3 separate regions of the Homo sapiens genome follow, and all the other regions are linked to region 1. The links come from fine-mapping of genetic effects on plasma protein levels. A gene starts in region 1. Each other region holds a variant in brackets. All regions are shown on one strand. Distances are from middle to middle.

Region 1 (6,797 bases):
AGCCCAGGCTGATACTGTGCAATGGGGAGGCTGGCAGCCGGGAAGAGCCCCACCTCTCTTACGCGCACCACAGGCCCACTGAGACCCTCCCAAACCGCAGCAGGGAATGGGAGGGGCTTGGTGGAGAGGTTCCAGGAGCCAGCCTTGGGCAGGGAGGCAGGCAGAGATAGAAGGAAAAGAGGGTCTCAGTCCCCAGAGAACACGGAGATGGCAGTGCAGAGCCAGAGTGAAGACATCGCAGGAGGGCCAGGGTGACACCTGAGTCTCCTGACACCAAGCCCACTTAACATGAGGCACCCCAGCAGGGATGGGCACTGCCCCTGATAGAGAGTTGCTGGGTCCCTGGGCAGATGGGGGAAGTGCATCCCAACCGCCACAGCAGAGCAGCTTAGCCCAGCTCCAGCCTGGGCCAGAAGACTCAGGTGGCGGGGCAGCGCTCAGCAGGTGGACCTCAGTGCAGCTTGGCCCTGCGAGCACAAAGGCAAGATTACCTTGGCCTCCTGATGAAGCTCATTAAAAAAGCAATCTACCTAGTGCCTGCAACAGAACTGAAGGGAGTGGAGGCGGAGAAGAGGGACTCGGAGGGTGGGGTGCTGTCACCTGCCCGGTAGCACAACCCACTTCCAGAGTGGGTGGCAGAGGGGGCCTCCTGACGGCCCTGGAAGCCCCTCCCAACCCTGGCGCATGCTGCTGAGCTAGCAATTTCCAGGCTGGCAGCCCACCTCCGCCAGAGGCATCTGCGTTTTCCATTCTTGCTCCACACATGCTCCCTGGGCAGGGGGAGCCGGGCCTTCCTGGTGTAGCACCTGGGGCCCCATCGGCCCCACCTGGTCCTCCCACTCTCATGGACAAACTCCAGAGAAAGGAGGCCAAGGCTCTTCACCCTGGGGACCCACAGGCGTGCGGGGCTGCAGGAAGAGCATCCTGGTTGCAATCTAGGGCTGAGGTGGCCTCTGCTGAGCAGGCTTGTTTCAAAAGCTCCGGCTTCTTGGCGGCCCGAAGCTTCCACGCAATCCTCTTAGGCTGCCGAGCTAAGTCCCTCTGGCAAAGGGGGTGACCCCCATCCTTGCACCCCCCACAGGTAGGGAGGCGTCTGTTGGTATTGGTCAGTGACCAACTCTGGGAGCCTACTGCTCTGACTGGTGGAAGGGTGGGTGGGGGCATGGCTGTGGTCCCAGGCACAGCTGAGCCTAGCACAGAGAAGCTGGACCAGGGTTAGGGGGGCCCTGCAGCAGGAACGTGCATCTGTGCAGAGCAGACTAAGTGCTGGGCCGGAAGCAATCCTTCAGGGGCCCTAGACAGGCAGCTCTGTGACCGCCAAGTGTAGAATGTGGCTGTAAGAGGCTCAGAACATCACCTCCCAGGCTGGGAGCTGCAGTGTGTGTGTGTGTGTGGGTGTGTGTGTGTACAGTTGGGGGAGGGGGGAGAAAGAAAAGTGGGAAGATGCCCCTCCAACTCTAGGACCCCAATTTCCTGACAGCCTGAGAAAGACCACAGAGCAAGGATTGAGGTCTGTGCAGGGGAGCAGTGTCTCGGACTCTGCTCAGCTCCAGGCTGGCTGGACCTTCCAGGCTCCCCAGGCACACCTGAGAGCCTACAGCCTCTGGACCCAAGAGTGCCAGCCAACACGCCTACAACCGCCCAGCCTCCTACCACCAGCCTGTCTGCAAATTCAGTCCTAAGGCAAATTTGGAAGAGAAACAAAAGGCAGACAAGAAGCCCTGCTCCTGGCCCTTCCCAGCCCAGACTTTGGGGAGAAAGGCCCCGCAGGGCATCCCTGCAGGACGAATGGGCACCAACAGGAACAGGAGGAAAATAACCCCAACTTTAACTGCTGGAAACCCAGCAGCACCCCAGGTTCCCCTACAAACGGCTTCCCAGAAGAGCTGCCCCGGCACCCCTCCCATGCTCTGTGTCCTCACGCAGCTCAGCTCTGACATGGGGCTGGGGGACCCCAGAGAAGGGGTGTGGCAGCACAGGTTCCCTGGACCAGCTCAACTACCCCCAACCTGGCTGGTAGCTTCCTGGGGAAGGTGGTCCCCCATCGGGTGGCTTTTGTTCCTCTCTCCAGGCAAGCCTGTGCCTGGAAGAATTCGGCTGGCAGGCCCCACTGGGAGGACAGGCGGTACTGCCTCCTCCCCGCCCCCAGCCCCAGGTCAACAGGGCCTTTGTTCTACCTGCACACACCGGCAGGCAGGCGGGCAGAGCCAGCCCCCTTCCCTGGCAGCTCCCCCACCCTCTGAAGGCAGGCACTCCAGGCACAGGGGCGGCACCTCACTACTCTCACTTCCACTTTTGGGACCACAGCACCGAAGCGGCACGGGGAAGCCAACACTCCAGGTAGGCCACGCACACACCCAGAAGCCCGCGTCCCCAAGTCCGGCGGGCCAGACCTCACGGCGCACAGCAGGTAAGGTGGCCCGAGGGCAGCGGGCGGGGACCCTGGAGAAAACCCGGGCGCTGCGCAGTCAAGCCGGCAGTAGGGCAGCACAAGGCAAGGAAGAGAGTGAGAGCGAGGTCAGAAAGCGCGGTGACAGCCGGCTCACCCAGAGGAGCTGGGAGCCTCGGGCGCTCGGCAGGTCGGGAGGGGTGCCGGCGAGTGGGGGCCCCCAAGAGGGCAGAAGGGGGTAGGGAAGGCAGGGCCGACCCAGTACAGCACGGCGGGCATACGGCCCGGCCTCGGGGGCGCAGCTGCGCGAGGATCCCGCCGCCCGGGCGCTCACCTGGGCGTGCGCAGCGCGGCGGAGTCGCGGCGGTCCAGCACGCCGGGCACGCAGTTGGTGAGCTCGGTCCAGTCGGCGTGCAGCCCGCAGCTCCAGCCGGTGGAGAAGCGGGAGAAGAGCCAAGTCTCGCGGCGGTTGGGCCGGTAGCAGGTGCACTTCTTCTGGCCGGGCCGGCAGTCGCACGGCACCTCGAGGCGTACGTTCTGCACGAGGTGGCGGCCGAAGGTGGTGCCGCCCGTCTTCTGGATGTGCAGGAAGACGATCACGTCGTCGCCCTTCATGTCGAAGCGCAGCGAGCGCTCCAGCTCGCGGACCGGGAAGTAGTACTTCTTCTCGTAGTGGGGGTCGGGTGTGGGGAACAGGTCCAGGTCGTCGGGCGGCGCGCGGCCGCCGGGCGCGCCCAGGCTCAGTCCTGGGCCCGCGTACTGGTACAAGATGAGCATGAAGCACACCGAGCCCGCCACCACCAGCACGAACTTGCTGGCGCGCTCAACCATGGTCCTGCCGCCGGCGCGCCGCCGCCGCATGTGTCACCATCGCCGGGGCCCGGGCGCGGGGCGCGGGGCCTGGGAGGGCAGGAGGCGCGGGCGCAGCTGCCTCCGCCGCCGCCCGCGCTCCGGCCCGGCCCGGCTACTCGGCGCCCAGGCCGCCCGCAGCGGCGCGGGCCCCGACCCTCCGCGGTGCCATGGCTGCTCCCCGCCCGGCCCCGGCTCCCCGGGCCCGACGCCCGACTCCGCTCCCGCTCGGCCCCGCTCCCGGCCCCGGCCAGCACAGCGCTCTCCGCGCCCCCAGCACCAGCCCGCTCCGCTCCACTCCGCGCCGAGAACGCTCTGCGCCGCCCCGCGCGCCGCCGCGTCTCCGCAGTCCGCCGCCGCCGCCCCGCCCCGGTCCGCCCCTGGCCCGCCCCCGTGGCGTCTCTTGCCGTCGCCGCCCGCGCCGATCCTCGGCCCCGCCTCCGGAGTGCCGGGGTTCGCCGCGGGTGCTGGGCGCGGGACCTGGGTCTGCTGCGGTGGCGAGGCCGCTAGCAGGCGGGCAGCCAGCGACTGGGAAGTGATTCCGCCCTCAGGGGAGTGGGGGACCAACCGGCAGTGCGGAGCCGAGGCGTGGGAGGCTCTCCTGGCGGGGGCCGCGGTGAGGGGGCGCGGCGGCTGGCGCTTCTGGAGCCTGGGTCCGTACCCCCTCCTCCCCAAGTCCCAGCCGCCCACGTCCCCGCAGCCCGCGCGGGAGGAAAGGCCTTGACCTTGCACGCTGGGGCGCTGAAGTTAGACGCTAGCCTACTGGGCTGCACTTCCAGGGACCAGGGCGGCGGGGGCCGCCCACCACCAGGACCGAGAGGGAAAGCGAGGCTTTCCTTTCCTGCTCGACCCCCTCACCCCTGCGGCTGGCTTTGGGACAGTGCCCCGCAGCCCCGCATTGAAGAGATGTTGGGCTGTCTGCAGAGGCCTGCGGAGCGGCTTTATGGCTTCCTCCTTGTTTGAAAAGAATATCAGACGAGGTGCATTTTCCCCCATCCATGTTTATTATACTCCAATGAAAGAGTTATAAAACATTGAGCCAATTCTTAAGAATCGTGAGTGCCCACCAAATATTCTGTCTTTCGTGGGTTGGTTGGAGAGTCCAGCGGCCCGGGCCCAACCTGGCTGCGGAGGGCTCGCTCCACGTTGGCTCGTGTGTGGGCCGGGTGGTGCGGGCTCCTCACTCGCCGCCGCCCAGCCTGGCAAGCACGCGCGGCATTCGTGGGGCGGGGGGTCCCGCCAGGTGCCCACTCACACTGCTTGGGCTCTGGCAGTACTCGGAGGCTGCAGCCCGTCGGAAGCGCAGGAGTGGGGCTGGGACCTGCCAGGATCTCACAGCTGCAGGGCCGGCCGCGGTGGGCCCTAGTGTGTTGGTTCAGGCCAGCGAGGGCTCTGGGAGCGAGTCTGGCTGCCAGGCGTGGGCTCCCAGTGTCCACGTCAAGCCCTGCCGGGGACGGGGTGGGGGGGGAGGCGGGGTGGTGCCCTGCCTTCCGTTCTGTTAGGGACCGGAAGCGATCATGGGGTGTCAATTATGCCTCAGTAAAGCTGTTAAACGTAGACAACATCACACCAGAAAGCCCTCCTGGAAGCAAACCCAGAGAGCTGGAAAAACCAACACCCCAAACCCAGCTGAGCGGGCGGCATGCATTTTCCAAAGGGACCGCAAGAATATCCGCTGTGGACAGGCGGGTGCAGAACCCTCAACACAGCCCAGCGCACCCTGGAGTCCATGGTGTGGGGTCCTCAGTGGGACCTAGGGCCCCAAAGCCCCTGCTCATCTTGTAGGCTGCTTTAAAACTGTCCCTGGCCCGAGGGTCCTGGGGGCAGCTTGGACAAGCTTCTCCAGAAGTGACTCATTCCTATAGGAGTGGGGGTGCAGTCCCCATGGGACACAGGTGGGGCCGCCCTGCAGTGTGCTTGGACCTGCCTGCAGCCCCTTGACGCAGTCTGTGCCTGAGCCCTGGGGAGCCTTCCTGTGTGGCCTAGGGGAGCACAGCTGCCCCGGGTCCACCCCCCAGATGTCCTTACCCAGATAAGGATCCTCGTGCTACATCATAATTAAGGCTGCTCTTTTGGAGACCTGCTGGGTGCCAGGCATTGTAGAGGTGTCATTTCCAATTCCATCAGCAAATCTGCGGGGGTAGGCTGTGATATCCATTTACAGAAGAGAAAACTGAGGTTCAAAGGGGTTAAGACCCTGGTTCCAAGGTCAACCACTCTCACCCCATGAGAGTCAGCAGAGCTGGGATCCTGATTCCTGCTGTGAGCCCCAGAACCCTCCCCTTCCCCACCTCTGCACTTGCCCCAGCTCCCTAGGCCAGGGATGAGAGCGTCTACAGGGGCCACTCCTGAGAGCCTGGTGACCGTCACTGCCACCAAGGGGGAACGTGGGCCCAGAGTGTTCAAGGGAAAGCTGGAGCAGCTCCGAAGGCCAACGAAGCCATCGGTACTTGGGCCATGGCTCCACCCTGTGATGATCTCACTGTCCCAAGGGGGAAACTGAGGCCCAGGCAGGGACGAAGTGCCTGTGATAAGGTCCCACCCTTGAATGGGAGCCAGAGCAGCCTGACCCATGGAGCAACATCTCCCAGAACAAGCTATTTAATCCAACTTCATACCTGCCACACTGGCTGATGGGAAGCACTCACATTAGCCAGGAAGCCCTTTCTTTCTAGAATTCTTTTAAGAGGAGGGAAATCTGCCTGGCTGGCTACAGGACTTTGCTCAGTCTTCCACTTTGATTGAAGCCCTGCACAGGCACCTGAGACCCTAAGGCTGTAGGTGAGTTTCTGGGCTCTGAAAGTCAAGTCAGATGAGCCACCCATCAATCAGTGGACACTTGAGCCGAGTGGAAGGCAGCTCGAGCCCTCGTTGGCGGGGCAGCTTGCATCACGCTACTCCCCACCACTTCCCGCTACTCCCCGCGATGAGTCCTCAGTGTCATGTCTTGGAAAATGGATAGAAACGCACAGTCTGGGGCTGGCGTGGGGTTCCAGGAGGTCAGCGGACACAGCCAGGGTCTCAGGAGGCGCGCTCTGCGCGCTGTTTCCTTTCTTCCCTGGGTGATCTCCTGCGTGGCCAAGGTTTGCCCCAGCCCCGAGAGTGCATATGAGCTAAGTGTTTGCTAGGGGCAGCTTCTGGCCCTGACTGCTTGTGGGGTCCAAGGAAAAGCACTGGCAGCTCTTCTGCTCAGTGGCTTTGTCCCCTGAAGATCCACTTCACCAATTCTTTAATGCGTGATCTCTGACTTAATGGCAAAGAAAAGTAAAAGAACACGGCTTAGTGGCAGGCTGTGATGATCCCAGAAGAGGCATTAACATTCGGCTTCAGGAATGAAGCCTCATTCCCGGCCCACCGTGCGGTCTCAGAGTCTGAGAACCACGAGATCAACAGCGGCGCCCCCTCCCGGCGCACAGTCCCGCGGACGGCCGCGCGGGGGCAGCACGCGGCCCGGCCCCCGAGCGCCCGCGGTTGACTTTGCAAAAAATTGGGGGATTTTCCACACTCGCTTCCCTCGTCGTTCGTCCGGCGGCCGCCCATTGTTGTTTGCCAAGGGGTG
Region 2 (6,797 bases), 52 kb before region 1:
TAAAGTGGCCTTCGGCCAGGTAACAGAACAAGACTCTGTCTTTAAAAACAAAAAAAGGTGGCCTTCAACTCTAAAGAGAAGCAGGAAGAGGAAAACCCCCATTCTGGGTGAGGTATTTTCAGGTCTGATTTCACCTTTGATCATGACACTGGCCCTACAGAGTCCAGTGGTACTATCAGAAGGTGGAGGAAGCTTCCATCTTGGCTCCCCCGAGGGAGAAGCCAGGCTGAGGGCTGGTCCACACCCCAAATAAACCTCCGCATGAAGTGTCCAGGAAGGACTCGGGAGTTCCTCTTGGCGTCTGGCCTCTGCTCCTCCCTTCCGCACTCTACCTAGGCATGAGCAGGTGTTGACGTGGAGTCTGAGACTGGGGTTTTAAGAAGGCAGCTACGTTCTGACTCCTGCCCTACTTGTGCCGTGACCCTCCCAGAAACACCTTGATGACCTTTGTCACTGGGATGGTGGCAGGTAGAAGCCGTGACCCTCCCAGAAACACCCTGGTGACCTTTGTCACTGGGATGGTGGCAGGTATGAGCTGGCAGGTGACCACTATGGCTGGGTTTCCCCAGGGGCTGAGTGGGGAGGCTGGACTTCCCTCATCTGGGGAACAGAGCCACAGGACACCTGGGCTGATGGAAGGTGCCTCACCCGAGGGCCTTCCTACCCAATTTCACCGAATCTGACCACTAGGAAACTGACATCTGTAGTTTTTTTTCTTTTTTTTCTTTTTTTTTTTTTTAGGAATCTTGCTCTGTTGCCCAGGCTGGAGTGCAGTGGCGCAATCTCAGCTCACTGCAAGCTCTGCCTCCCGGGTTCATGCCATTCTCCTGCCTCAGCCTCCTGAGTAGCTGAGGCTACAGGTGCCCGCCACCAAGCCCGGCTAATTTTTTGTATTTTTAGTAGAGACGGGGTTTCACCGCGTTAGCCAGGATGGTCTCGATCTCCTGACCTCGTGATCCGCCCGCCTCAGCCTCCCCAAGTGCTGGGATTACAGGTGTGAGCCACCACGCCCGGCCAACATCAGCAGACCTTTTAAGACAACTGGTCTCTACTAGTCAAATATGTCAATCCTAAGAAAGACGGAAAAAAGAAGGGGTAGCTGGGACCCTCTCCTCCATTCAAGGAGACAGGAGAGGCACATGGGGCACCGTGTGGTCCTGGGGCTACAAAATGCTCTGAAGACATCTCTAGGACAACCAGAAGATCTGGATATTGGAAAATACTGTATTGTTATAAAATCTGGGGGGGGGGCTGGGATAACAGGGTTGAGTTTTGTGGCAGAACGTCCTTAGGAGACACGAGCTGATGGATTTAGGAGTGCAGTATTCTGATGATCACAACCTACTTTCAGATGTTTCAGAAAAGCGCGCGTGTGTGCGTGTATGAGAAAGTGTGGGCACAGGATAAGAGAAGGTGAAAAATTTAGGCCAAGAGCATGTGGGTGTCCATGAACTATTCCTCCACTCTCTTTGTCATTTGAAATCTTTCAAAATTTCCAAAGACAGGGAGGGAAGAGGTTAATGAGAATGTAACTCAGTGGCACCTGCCTCCCTCTCAACTGGTGTCATCTTCCCAAATACTATCACTAATGATTAATAAACGGTTACTCTTTATGGTGATGACAAAGTCCCATTTTTTCTTTCAGAATGCCTTACTTAATGGGACTTTCCTCACTGAGCCTCCTGCACCTGTGCAAAGCACCCCGCCCTTGGGACGTGGTGTGAGACCCCACTGGGAGGGGCAGCTATGCCCGCAGAGACCACAGCACACCCGCCACTCCTTGTCAGGGTTTATTTCATCAGCTAACATTCATTCTCGACCTAGACAAAAACAATTAGATGATTATGACTTGCTTTTCCATCATCAACTCATTTTTTTGTATGAATAACCAAAAAATTTCTTCAACACTTTTTTTTAAGAAGAAGCTATAAATAAATAAAGCTTTAAACAATCCTGGGTTCAAGTTAAACAGTTCCAGTTCCCGAAAAGTTCACAGCCTTGTTTTGTGGGCAGTTCTGCTGTTCCTGGCTTCCCCTTCCAGGAGGGGACGTTTGCAGGTCTGGGGGTCCTGGTGACTAAGCTGTTAGCTCCACTCCCTGCCTGTTTCCGTCCTCACAGCCCTGGGAGGGCCCCGGTGGACAGAGTCCTTACAATTTAGGAGATGCTGCTGGCAAAGGAACTGTTGACCCAAAGCAGGTGGCCTGAATGGGAAGTGCCAGGCTGGACACTTGGGGGCTGAGGGCACTGCCAGCTGCCGCCGCCTCTGGACACCTCAGCCCGGCGCTGGCCCGAGAGGAGACTGCTTTCCAAATGCAGCGAAGAGACTGAGACAAGACCCGTGCTTCCGTGTGAGTTGGGATGCGGGGCATAAGTTAACACATATTCCAATATGTACAAAACAACCTGCGCTCAGGCCCGCGCACCCAGGAAGCCCATGGTGAAGGTGAGGTCACCTTGAGCCAGGCCTCTGGCTGGGTGTCCACCTCCTGCCGGGAAGCCAAGGTGCCCCACGTGGCTTGTGCAAGACCTCACAATCCCCTGAACGTGTTCCTCCTCCTCCAAGGAGTGCACCCACCCCCATGTTGAGTGTCCGAGCAGATTCCCATTGACCCTGACCTCCCTTTGAAAGAACCACACCACTAAATCCCCTTGGCACTCACTTCCTTAGTGTGATGCATCCACCCAGGGAGGTGGCCCTGCGCGGCGCTGGCACGCTGTCCACCCTGCCCTGTTGACCATCCTGTCCTTGGACCCCAAAGTAAAATGGGGCCAGTGTAGGAGACCTGAGGGTGGGGCCCTTATGCCAGACCTCCAGGGGTAGCGACCTCACCTGACCCCAGCTTCGGCTTCCTGTGCTGCAGAAGGCGCTTGCTCCCAAGCCCGTGGTGACCCACGTCTCCACCCCATGGTGTGGCAACTGTGGTGGCTGAGTGGAAGCTGGGGCAGGAGAGAGGACCCCCACCAACCCCAGCCAGGTGGCCTGCAGAGCCCACTGCCCTACCTCTGAGTCAGCCTGCGGCCTGAGCACACCAATCTACTCTCTGGGGGATCCAGGGTGCCTGTGTGGGCCCTCCTAGAGACACCAGCTTGGCCTCCTAGGGCATAAGGAATGGGGACAGGGCACAGGGCACGTGCTTACAACGGATATGCAACATGGCTTTTGGTAGGGCCATTGCAGCCAGTGGGGAAACCTGCGCGGCTGCTGGGAACAGAGCATGGCCAGCCTTTTGCCAGGGGGTGGGGAGCATGGGGAAATGCAAGGAGAGCCAGGGTGGGGAGGGCTGAGTGTCTGTTGTCAGGGAGGCCACCTACAGCTGTTTTGCCAAGGCTAGTTGAGAATCTGAAAGCTCGAGTCCCAGTTCCTGGCCATACAGAGCCACTGTGGTCCGAGGGTACGGCTCCTGGGCAGGGGCTATGGTCCCATGCTCCAGCCGATGGAAGCCTGATGAACTTAATCCGTACGCTGGTGGGAGCAGTGGTATTTGAGCTCTTGAGTATGTGTTTCGGTGATGGGGCTGGGGCAGCCTGCTAGCAAATCCCAGTGGGTCAGAAAGGAGAACAGAGGCAGGGGAGCCCTCGGTCCCCAGCCCTTCCAGTCTGAGCCAGGCCTGCCTGGATGGTCACCTCCAAGGGCCAGCCGCGGACTCACGCACAAGTGGCAGCATCCCTGGCCAAAGCCTCCCCACTCCTGGGCTGCCAGTTGGCCCGAGGAAGGCCGGCAATGCAGCTCGGGCCTACTACCCAAACCCCTCCTTGGTCTGAGGACTGTAGGGAGTGGGTGGGGCCTGAACATCAGCTTTGGCCTCCTGACCCAAAGCATGAAGCAGGACCATGGGCCAGAGAGGGGAGCAGGCTTCCTGGGGGCTGGACTCGAGTCTTCTCTGCCTCAGATGGGGTGGGCCCTGACTTTGAGGGAGCTACAGATGGGTGAGCTGGGGGCTCCCCAGGCCTCGGGGCATTGGGGGCAGCCAGAAGAGGAGGGGCTATGGGATGGCCTGGAGCTGGGGCAGTTGCCAGAAGCTGGTCTCACTCCTAGTAGCCCGGACAGAGGAGCTAAGAGCGAGTGCTGTGTGCATAGTTGGTGAGGGACACACTCCCGGCCTGGCAGGTCCACTTTCCGCTGTCCTCGTCTCTTGCGCAAACCTTCAGTTTTTGCGATAAATCCAAGGAGGCCAGGAGAGCAGCTCCAGGCACAACACCTGCTCTGGAGGCCCTGCCCTGACCATGGCATCCTTCGAGCACGCTTTCCTCTGACCCACTGGGCTGCACCTGTTGATTTCTCAAGCCCCCATCCCTGCCCAGCCCCACTACATCCCTGCTCTGTTTTTTTTCAGGACGCAGCTACCTCTGTGGAGCAGGTTTGGGATGCTCATCCCTTGACAGTCTTGGGTGGACCTGTCGTCTGTCCTGTTTTATCCCCCACACCCCCCAAGAGGCCTCCCCGTGGCCACCACCGCCACTACCACTTCTCAATGATGTGGCTCATGTAGTCCTCGGTGGGCACGCGGCCCGGCTCGTCGGCATCCTCCCGCGGCAGTGCCTCCTTGGCCCGGTGCAGCAGACGCTCCTCGCGGCTCCTCAGGCGCTGCTCCCTGCGCTCCAGCTGCCGCTTGTACTGGTAGCGCTGCTGGAAGAGGTCCTTGGCGTAGTCGTACAGCTGCATGTCCAGGTCGTTGAGCTCCTCGATGCGCCGGATGGTGTCTTCATCCACCTCCACGCCGCCCGCCCGCGTGCTATTGTACTGCATGAAGGGCCGGATGAACTTGAGGTTGAACGTCCGCTCGAACAGGTACTGCGTCTTGCGCTGGAACTCGGTCAGGCCGAAGAAGGCCATGCCCCGCAGGTTCTTCTTGGCGCTCTCGAGCAGCAGCTGGGCCCGCTTGCCCTCGGGGATGAAGGACAGGTTGTAGCAGCCCACCAGGCTCAGGTCGGCCAGCATGCGCACCTGGCGGTTGTTGGCCAGGTTGTACGGGCAGTCCATGAACTCCTGTAGCGTGCAGCCCGACCAGTCCGTGCCCTCGTAGCAGGGCGGCAGCTCCTCAG[G/A]CGTGGGCGTGCGCCCATCACACATATGCAACGACGTCTTCCACGTGGCACCCCTCTGCACATGCCGCCACTCGCTCAGGTAGCGGGACACGGGGTCTCGTAGCAGGGTGATGTAGTAGAACTTCCTGCAAGGAGACGGGGAGAGGAGGTGAGGGCTGTGACGCAGCATGAGGGGGGCTACCAGGGCTGCTCTGAGTCAAAGTCCCCACTACAGGAGTTTGGGCTTCGCCTCTAATGCCAACCAACTCCTGCACTTAGCTCTCAGTCGTTTCAAAACCCGGTATCAGAGATGCCAAGGAGCATGCCACGGTCACATGGCTACCCAGGATGACCACCACAGTGCCCTGCAGCGCCTGGCCTGGCTCCTCTGGAGGGACAACCTGACTTTTTCCTGCTGGTGGGTGGAGCCACCAATACCGCATCCAGAGAAGTCGCAGAGCCACAGCCGCCTGAGGCCAGCAGTCTTCACCAGCTGTTTACAGCCTGGGCATGGTGCCACCCAAAGAGCCACTCAGCAGGAACAGAAGGTGGGCAGGGGCCAGCGAGGGTCACCTCCAGTCCCAGTCCCAGGGTCCTGCCAAGGCCTGGTGGTGGTTGGGGGGGGGGTGCCCAGCGGACCAGCCAGCCCAGGACCCCAGAGGAAGCCATGACGTATACACCAACTCTACTTGCTGGGTTGTCCCCCAAGACACCAACGCATTGCACAGTATGTAACGGTGCGTGCACAAGGGAGAAACGACCCAAGGAAGACTCCACCTCCCACCCTCCCCTGCGCGGCAGGAGCCCAGCATGAAGCATGTCCTTGCCAGGCTCGCTATGACGCTGGGCTGGAGGCGTCAGGACACTGGACAGGTGGGTAAAACGTGGTGGCGGCTGTGGATATGCCCGGTGTGTGTGTGTGGGCTCAGCCCCGGGAGAGGCTGCAGTCATTCTTAGAGGGCTCCTCCTCCTGGCTCCTGTCCACGCTGGGGTGGGTGGGCTTCAGGCCAAGTAGAACCAGGGCCAGGCAGGCAGCCTAGGAGCCCACAGGGCCCCTCACTGCCCGGGGGAGCAGCTCCAGAAGGGCCCTGACCCCCCGCCAGGATTCCCCAGATGGCAACATGGAAGTGTACCCACACTGCTCCCCTCCTCCCCTCACACTGCCCTGGGCAGGGGTGGGGGTGGGGGGCATGGAGGGACCCCGGGGAGCACAAAGCGCTTCTTGGTGTCCGCTGGCAACTGCCTGATCTGACCGCACACCTCCCTGCAGGGAGGGAGGCACAGTGCCTGGCAAGTGGTGCGGTGCCACTGCAGGCCACCCCCGCCTATGAGGACATGTCAGAAAGCCCCAGGGGTGGCAGCTCTGAAGCAGGCGGGGTAGCCAGTGATGGCTCCAGGGGCAGGCAGCAAGGCCAGCACTACTGCATGCAGACTGCCGAGGAAGGGACAGGCAGCTGTCATCCGCCCAGTGTTTTCTGTGGCCTGGCAGGCTCAGACCCTGCCCTGGAGGAGCTCTCAGCAGATGGGGTGGAGGAAGGACCCAGCAGGACTGAGCTGACGACCCCAGGGTCAGGCACGGCTGGTCTCCAGGGGGCAGATAAGCTGTGGGCAGCAGGGGCGAGAGCAGGCCTCAGTTTCCCTGCTCCAGGCTCCCACTTCACACGTCCCAAGGCACACCTGGCCCTCCCCAAGCACCCTGCACCCACAGCCTGCCTGGTACCACCCATCCATGCTGATGGCAGCAGCTCCTGGGCACTCGGGGCCTCAAGGGCCAG
Region 3 (6,797 bases), 26 kb before region 1:
AGGGCCCAGCAGGCATTTGCTCATTTTATTCCTGCAACCCCGGTACGGTCGCCACTATTAGATCCCCCTGCAGATGGGCAAATGGAGACTCAGAGATCCTTCTGCAGCCAAAGTCTCCCAGATACCAGAGGTGTCTGACTTCATAGGCCACAAGGCATGTCTGCTGCTCACCCACGTGCACGGTCCCTGAGATGAGCAGCACGAAGCTCCCAGGAGAACCCGGCGCGCCATTGGCAGCACCAGAAAACAGGTCTCCAGCTTGCTAAGGGATCTGCCATCCAGCAGCTGTGTGGCCCTGACGAGTTCCCCAAGGAATGCATCTGTCATCTGTTTCCTCCTTGCACAAAACAAGACAATATGCCTCCTGGAGGTCACAGCATGACGCTCGGCATGAGGATGGGCCCACCCCAGCTGGCAGGGAAAGAGAGGAAGCTGCCGGAACAGACCTACCTGCTTTCACCAACCACAGGCCAGAGGCACCAGGAGAACATGTAAGAGATAGAGAGAGGATAGCTGTCAGTCAAATTATTTGTATAAAATGTCCAAATATAAGTCACAAATAGCCCGATAATCTCAAAAAGCAAAAATCAAAGCAGTAGTTTAAAATCTTCCTAAAATATTGAGGAAATGCCTGCAGCTTACATTCAAATGATTCTACTAAAATGCAAAAGCATGTATATAACTACATATATAAATATACATGTAAGTACACATGTATCTACAGATATACATATATGTAAACAGCAAGTGAGAGCACCCACTCACAAGCACAAATATTGCAAAATGTTAACAAGCAGTGGGTCTCGGTGAAAGGTATGAGGTTCACTTTACTACCATTTCAACGACTTTGTAAGTTTGACATTTTTCAAGATAAAAAGTTAGGGGTAAAATTCCTACAAAGAAAGTGCTGGGCTATTTCTACCAAATTTTAAAAGAACCAGATTTTTGTAAGCAAACCCTCCTAGACAAGAGTAAAGCAGTGGACACTCCCAATTCATTCTATGAGGCCAACATAATCCTAATACCGAAGTTGGACAAATGCACAAGAGAGGAAAATTGCAGCCTGGTGGACACATCTGCTAAGCTCAGAGTTCAAATATAGATACAAAAATTCCTCAACAAAAATCTTATCAAATCCAACCCAATTGAGCATATAAAAGATATTACACTACGACCATACTTAGTAACCCCAGGTATGCAAGGATGGCTTAACAGGAGAAAATCCATACATGTGACTCATCACAGCAACAGACTACAGAGCTCAGTAAATGTGTAAGAAGCATCTGCTAAAAACACTATTCATAATAAAAACTCTCAGGAAACTAGGAATAGAAGTCCCTTAATTTGGCCAGGCGTGGTAGCTCACACTTGTAATCCCAGCACTTTGGGAGGCTGAGGCAGGTGGATGACTTGAGGTCAGGAGTTCAAGACCAGCCTTGCCAACATGGCGAAACACCGTCTCTACTAAAAATACAAAAAAAAAAAAAAAAAAAAAAAAAAAATTTAGCATGCATGATGGCACGCACCTATAAAGAGGCTGAGGCGTAAGAATCACTTGAACCCAGGAAGTGGAGGTTGCAGTGAGCGGAGATCGTGTCATAGCACTCCAGCCTGGGCAAAAGAGTGAAACTGTCTCAAATTAAAAAAAAAAGTTCCTTAATTTGATAAAGTATCCCCAAAACCTAGAGCAAGCATGGTCCCCATGGGGAAGAGTCAGATGCATTCCCTCTAAGATCATGAATAAGACAAAGATGTCCACTCTCTCTAAGGCAATTCTGCATGTACTGGGGATCTCAGCTGACACAATAAAACAAGGAGGAACTAGGGACCTAACTGTCCCAGTAGAGTCCCCTTGCCTGTCCTTCTTGTCTTTAGTGAGTACCCCGTGCAGGCATTACTAGGCTGGGGGCTTCACACACCCTCTCAGACAGCCGGAGTCCCGGCATGGGGGAGGGCTACTTTTCTTGCCCACTGCCCTTGCCCTGGGTCCAGAGCACCCCATAGTTAAGGCTGTGGGTTTGCGCTCAGTGAGGTGTGAGTCCTGGAGGTTTGGGGCGGCCATGGCACTGGAGCAGCAGAAGGAAGCATTAGCCTCCTCAGTCTGGATCCTCACTGTGTCTCTTGGGGGCTAGACCTCTGGCAGGGAGGGCCCCAGGCACTGGGTGAGCTCAGAAGGTGCGTCAGCGGGAGCAGCTGGCTTCTAAATGAGCTCACCAGGGCCTGAGGGAGAGCCCCTGGCTGCAGGACCTGGGTCCTCCACAGGCTGACGCCATGCCTGGGGCAAGGTGGACCTCAAGGGAGCCAGGGCACAGGCTGTGTGCCTCACCTGGCCTGGCCTCTCCAGCCTGGGGCTCTTGTTGCCTCATACCAGTCCTGCTGCTTTCCATCACTTGGCCCCTCCTCTTTCCACGGGGAGGCCCTGGACAGACCTCACGGAGGCAACCCAGCAAGGATGTGGCTAACAGCTGTGCAGGGGCGCCGGCGGGCATCTGTCCACAGGCTCTTCCCCAAGGGCATACACAGGCTTCCCTATAGGTGCTTCTTGCCCTCCATTCCTTCCGTCCAACACCCTCCCTGCTCAGGGCTGACAGGCTCCTCTGAATGCACACTCTTCTCAACGCCAGGGGAGACCCTGCCAAGCTCCTCCATCCTAGGGTGGCTGTGTGGGGAAGGGTCCGGCTCAGGAGAAGGCCCCTGGATGCCAGGAGAGGGGCCTGGATGGAGCCGGCAGGGGAGGCGGCACAGGGCAACAGTGAGGAGGGTGAACTGAGGCCGGGGGGGCTGGGCCCAGCAAGAGTGCCAGGGATTCCTGGCCCTGCCCAGCTCTAGGCCCTCTCAGTGCCACAGAGACCACCTGGTGAAGGTGTGGGGAGAGGGATCCCCAGAGGGTCCATGCCAGGCAGTCTGGGCCTGCTCACACCATGTGTATCCTTCCATAGGGCCCACGCCTGGCAGGACCCTGGCTTGGAGCGGCTTTAACTGTGGCTGGGCTCCTGAGGAGGTAAGGTGGGCCCTGTGTTCCACGCCCAGCTACCCACCCAACACCTTCTCAGGGCAGGGACGCCCACACCAGTCTGGACACAGAACAACCCGGGGCGAGACACGTACTGGAGAAGACTGTGCTCCTCACCCCGGCGCTCTGGGACCTTGCTTCCCAGAAGCTGGAAGGAACCAGCCAGGCATCCCGGCGAGGATGTGGAGGGTGGTGGTGGGCCCACCCCTGCCTCAGGGAGGGCGGCCAGGCTCACGGGGAGGCTGTGGCATGTGGGCATGTGAGTGGGCAGGGACAGCCCAGCAAGGGCTGTGGGAAGCCGGGAGGGCAGTGCCCTGTGCAGTGGCTCCAGATTCAGGGCATTCAGTGTGCAGCAGGCCAGGGCAAATGGCACGGGGGGAATGGGGCGGAGGGGAGGGGCGGTGACTCACAAGGCCATGGGGG[C/T]GGGCAGAGGAACAAGGGCAGCAGGAAGGGCAGGCAGGGGTGCTATCAGCTGACGGGCTCCTGCTGGAAAAGACGGCTCGACTCACAGGAGGGCACCTGAGACATGGGGTGTGGGGGAAGGCAGCGGTCGGGGAGAGCCTAGGCAGGCCTCCCACTTGTCAGCCTCCCCAACTCTGTTGCCACTCCTACTGCAAAAGAGCCCTGGAGACCACCCTGGGTCTGGGGTCCTTGCCGTGGCTGCAGCCCCCCGCTGCCCACAGCCTGTGTGGTTCCACCCATGGGCCTGGTGGAGCTGGTCCCTGCTCTGCTCCGCCACACCAGGCCTCCCTCCCCAAAGGCTGGGCCTTGCTCTGCATGCAGTGGGGCCCAAACCAGCCAGGCACTCCAGCGTCCCACCCGCACACCCTGTCTCCTGCGGAAGGGCACCGCTCCCAGGCACAGCCCGCTCTGAGCCAGGGGCATGTCACACAATATGGCGCTTTTCTCCTCTTCTGGCCTGGCTCCCCATAAGCCTGCCCAAGGGCCAGCCTGGGCCTGGGCAGAGCAAGGCCTGGGAATGGCTAAGGCTTTGAGGCCTGGAATGAAGCATGACCGTCACTCCCTAAAGCCATGAGTAAAGCTAGTCTGAGGAGTAACTGTGGCGGCTGCCACCACCTGCTGGGCACTTTCCTTGCAAACACTGGGGTGGCTCCAGATTTCCCAGAAACCACTGTTCCTCATACCCCAGGACGGGAGGGGACCTTCGAAGTTGGAAGGAGAGCAGCAGCAGACCATGGTCCGAGGGGCGCTTCCCGGGGCCACAGCTTTGGGGGATGTTTAGCAAAACCAGGGGCTGGTATGGCCTGGAGGGCCCGGAGTCAGAGGAGGAACATGCTCCCAGATTCTTTGGGGCCCACGGGGACAGAGGGCAAAGAGAGACCATCAGGTGGCCTCAGGTCACCAGTGAAGGAAGGCGAGTTACATTTATACCAAGCACCTGTTTTGGGGGTCCTCTGGGGGATGAGGAAGGTTGGATTAACCACCAGCTCAGAAGGCCAGTGCTATGTGAGCAGGGTCTGTGGCCACATAGGATCCAGTTAGTCCTGTGGTCAGCCTCTAAGTGTGGAATGGCCATGCTGAGCCAGGCAGAAGCTGACCCAGTCCTGCTGAACATCCCAGGGCAATGGTTTCACCACAGGTTGGGGGTCCATGCTGAGACCACGCTGCAGGGACACAGGGGCACCATGTGGGTCCCGAAGCCAGTAGGCTTGGCTCTGTACCTCCTTGAGGGCAGGGCCCTGCCCTCTCCTCTCTGCACCTGCCCTGCTGGCCCAGACCCTCTGCTGGAAACCTGCCCCAAACTCCATGAAGCACTGTCCTTCACATCACAGCTTCTGAGCCTGGACTTGACAGCCTCCTCCTGAGACCCCACATGGCTCTTCTGTCATACACGCCCTGTGCCCGGCCCTGGCACTGTGCTCTGGATGGCCTGCACCAGGCTAGTGACAATTCACTGACTCTACTGCATCAGAGGGGGCACAGGGCGGGGTGGGCTGTGATGGAGGGCCCCGGGCCCTGCCCATGAAGTGCCGCAGTCCCCGAGGGAGGGGAGGGCTCTCCTTGCTAGTGCTTGGGTCTTCCTTTGTTCTCAGCCTGTCTACTGGGTAGGTGGGACTTGCCACCTTTAGAAACTTGTTCACCCTGGGGCAGCCTGTCAGAGTCAAGAGGCGCTGGCTGTCCTTAAGATGACACCAGTTTCAATAGGTTGGTGGCCCAGGTAGGATGGAGACGCTGTCACACTCCCACCTGGGAGCTGCGGCCCCTCTGAGGACAAGTGCTCTGGGGCCTGGAGAGCTGGGAGAAGAAGGTGGGCTACTGGGCAGTAAAGAGGCTCCACCGCAAAGAAGGGAGGCGTGTGTGTGTGTGTGTGTGTGTGTGTGTGTGTGTGTGTGTGTGTGGAGGGGGAGACAAAAGAGGTCTTCGGACCACCCTCCCACACCCAGGCTCTGGGATTTCCTGACTGTGGCCCACAAGGTACAGGGGTGTCAGCCTGGGTGGGCAGGCCCTGGAGCCTCCTGCTTCCTGAAACTCCTTCCTTCAGGCACATTTGTGCTGATTCTCCATGGACACAGCCCTAGCACCCCCAGAGAGGCTCCAAGGAACAAGGAAAATAAGAAGCAGTTGCCAGGATACCCAAGGCTCAGTGGGCCCCATGACCTACTCCAAACCACCTCCCCCTCTTGGTTTTCCTGTGTGGCAAGGCAGAAATGCAGGAGTCTGAAGGCAGAGGGGTCTGGATGTGCCCAGTGAGGAACCAGCAACTGAGTGACCATGCGCAGATCCAGTGCCCTCTGAGCCCTGGGTCCCTCTGTCCTGAAGGGCTACTGTGAACACCGTGAGATGTTGCCGGCTGATGGCACAGGCAGCATCCTTGCTGCCTCCCCTGTGCTGGGCACACCCATACTGGCTCATTTGGTTCTCTCCTCACTCCAGGGCAATGGGTACCATTCTTCTCTCCACTTCAGGGCAGGGGGTACCACTCCTCTCCGTTTATAGTTGAGGAGTCAGGCACAGTGAGGTGAAGGCCCTTGCTCAGGGCCACACAGCTAGGCAGCTGCCTGGGTGTCCACACCCTTGACTGCCAGGGCTTGTGACTAGGCTCCCAGCACATGCTGGGACCTGAGAGGCTCTCCTGGGACTAACACAAATCTTTCCCAAACTTTTCCAAAAATCTGAAGTGAAAAGAATACTTCCTAACTCATTCTATGAGGTCAGTATTATCCTGATATCAAAGCCAGACAAAGATATAACAAGAAAATTACACACTGATGTCCTTTATAAATACTGATGAAAATATCCTCAGCAAAATACTTGCAAATTGAATTGAACAGCATATAAAAATGATTATGTATCATGACCAAGTGAGATTTATCCCTAGAATGAAAGGATGGTTCAAAATATGAAAATCAATGTAGTATGCCACATTAACAGAATGAAGGAAAAAAACACATGATCATCTCAACTGATGCAGAAACATCATTTGACAAAATTCAATGCACCTGCATAATAAAAACTTTCAACAAACTAGAACCAGAAGGAAACTACCTCAGTGTAATAAAGGCCATTGCTATGGACTGAATGTGTGTGTTCCACCAAAACTCATGTTGAAGTCCTAATCTCCAACGTGATGGCATTTGGAGGTGGCGACTCTGAGAGGTAATTAGGTCATGAGGGTGGAGCCATAATGAATGGGACCAGTGGCTTCATAAGAGAAGACATGAGAGATGATTTCTTCTCTCTTGGCCATGGGAGATGCAGGGGATACAAGACAGGCAACAAGCCCTCACCAGTTCCACATCTGCTGGCTCCTTCATCTGGGACT

Which allele goes with the higher level. Positions count from the first base shown, and alleles are read on the strand shown. Strength reflects both the effect of a copy and how common the allele is.
In carriers of allele A in region 2, the plasma level of the protein whose gene starts at base 3,555 in region 1 tends to be lower than with G alone (moderate association).
As copies of T replace C in region 3, the plasma level of the protein whose gene starts at base 3,555 in region 1 goes down (moderate association).

Evidence for each region. PIP is the posterior inclusion probability: the model's chance that the variant is causal. The UK Biobank Pharma Proteomics Project read protein levels with antibody pairs (Olink). The fine-mapping took linkage between variants from a reference panel, not from the people measured, so its PIPs are less certain.
Region 2: its variant is fine-mapped to the plasma level of the HS6ST1 protein (UK Biobank, PIP above 0.99). The variant lies in the coding sequence of HS6ST1. If it changes the protein, the assay may bind it differently, which can mimic a change of level.
Region 3: its variant is fine-mapped to the plasma level of the HS6ST1 protein (UK Biobank, PIP above 0.99).

Annotation. Positions count from the first base shown.
Region 1 is chr2:128,315,314-128,322,110 of GRCh38, forward strand. It overlaps HS6ST1 (heparan sulfate 6-O-sulfotransferase 1), which reads right to left and starts at 3,555. Exons shown (of 2, transcript NM_004807.3): 1 at 2,724-3,555. The coding sequence starts at 3,250. RefSeq lists an enhancer at 1,413-1,562 and silencers at 2,564-2,793, 3,488-3,897, 6,554-6,797.
Region 2 is chr2:128,263,703-128,270,499 of GRCh38, forward strand. HS6ST1 (heparan sulfate 6-O-sulfotransferase 1) reads right to left here. Exons shown (of 2, transcript NM_004807.3): 2 at 1,778-5,168. The coding sequence ends at 4,460. Among named protein-coding and RNA genes, the nearest start is that of HS6ST1, 52 kb to the right of the region's middle. The variant G/A (reference allele first, on the strand shown) is at 5,044.
Region 3 is chr2:128,289,344-128,296,140 of GRCh38, forward strand. The region is part of intron 1 of HS6ST1 (heparan sulfate 6-O-sulfotransferase 1); the gene reads right to left. Among named protein-coding and RNA genes, the nearest start is that of HS6ST1, 26 kb to the right of the region's middle. RefSeq lists an enhancer at 5,778-6,327. The variant C/T (reference allele first, on the strand shown) is at 3,437.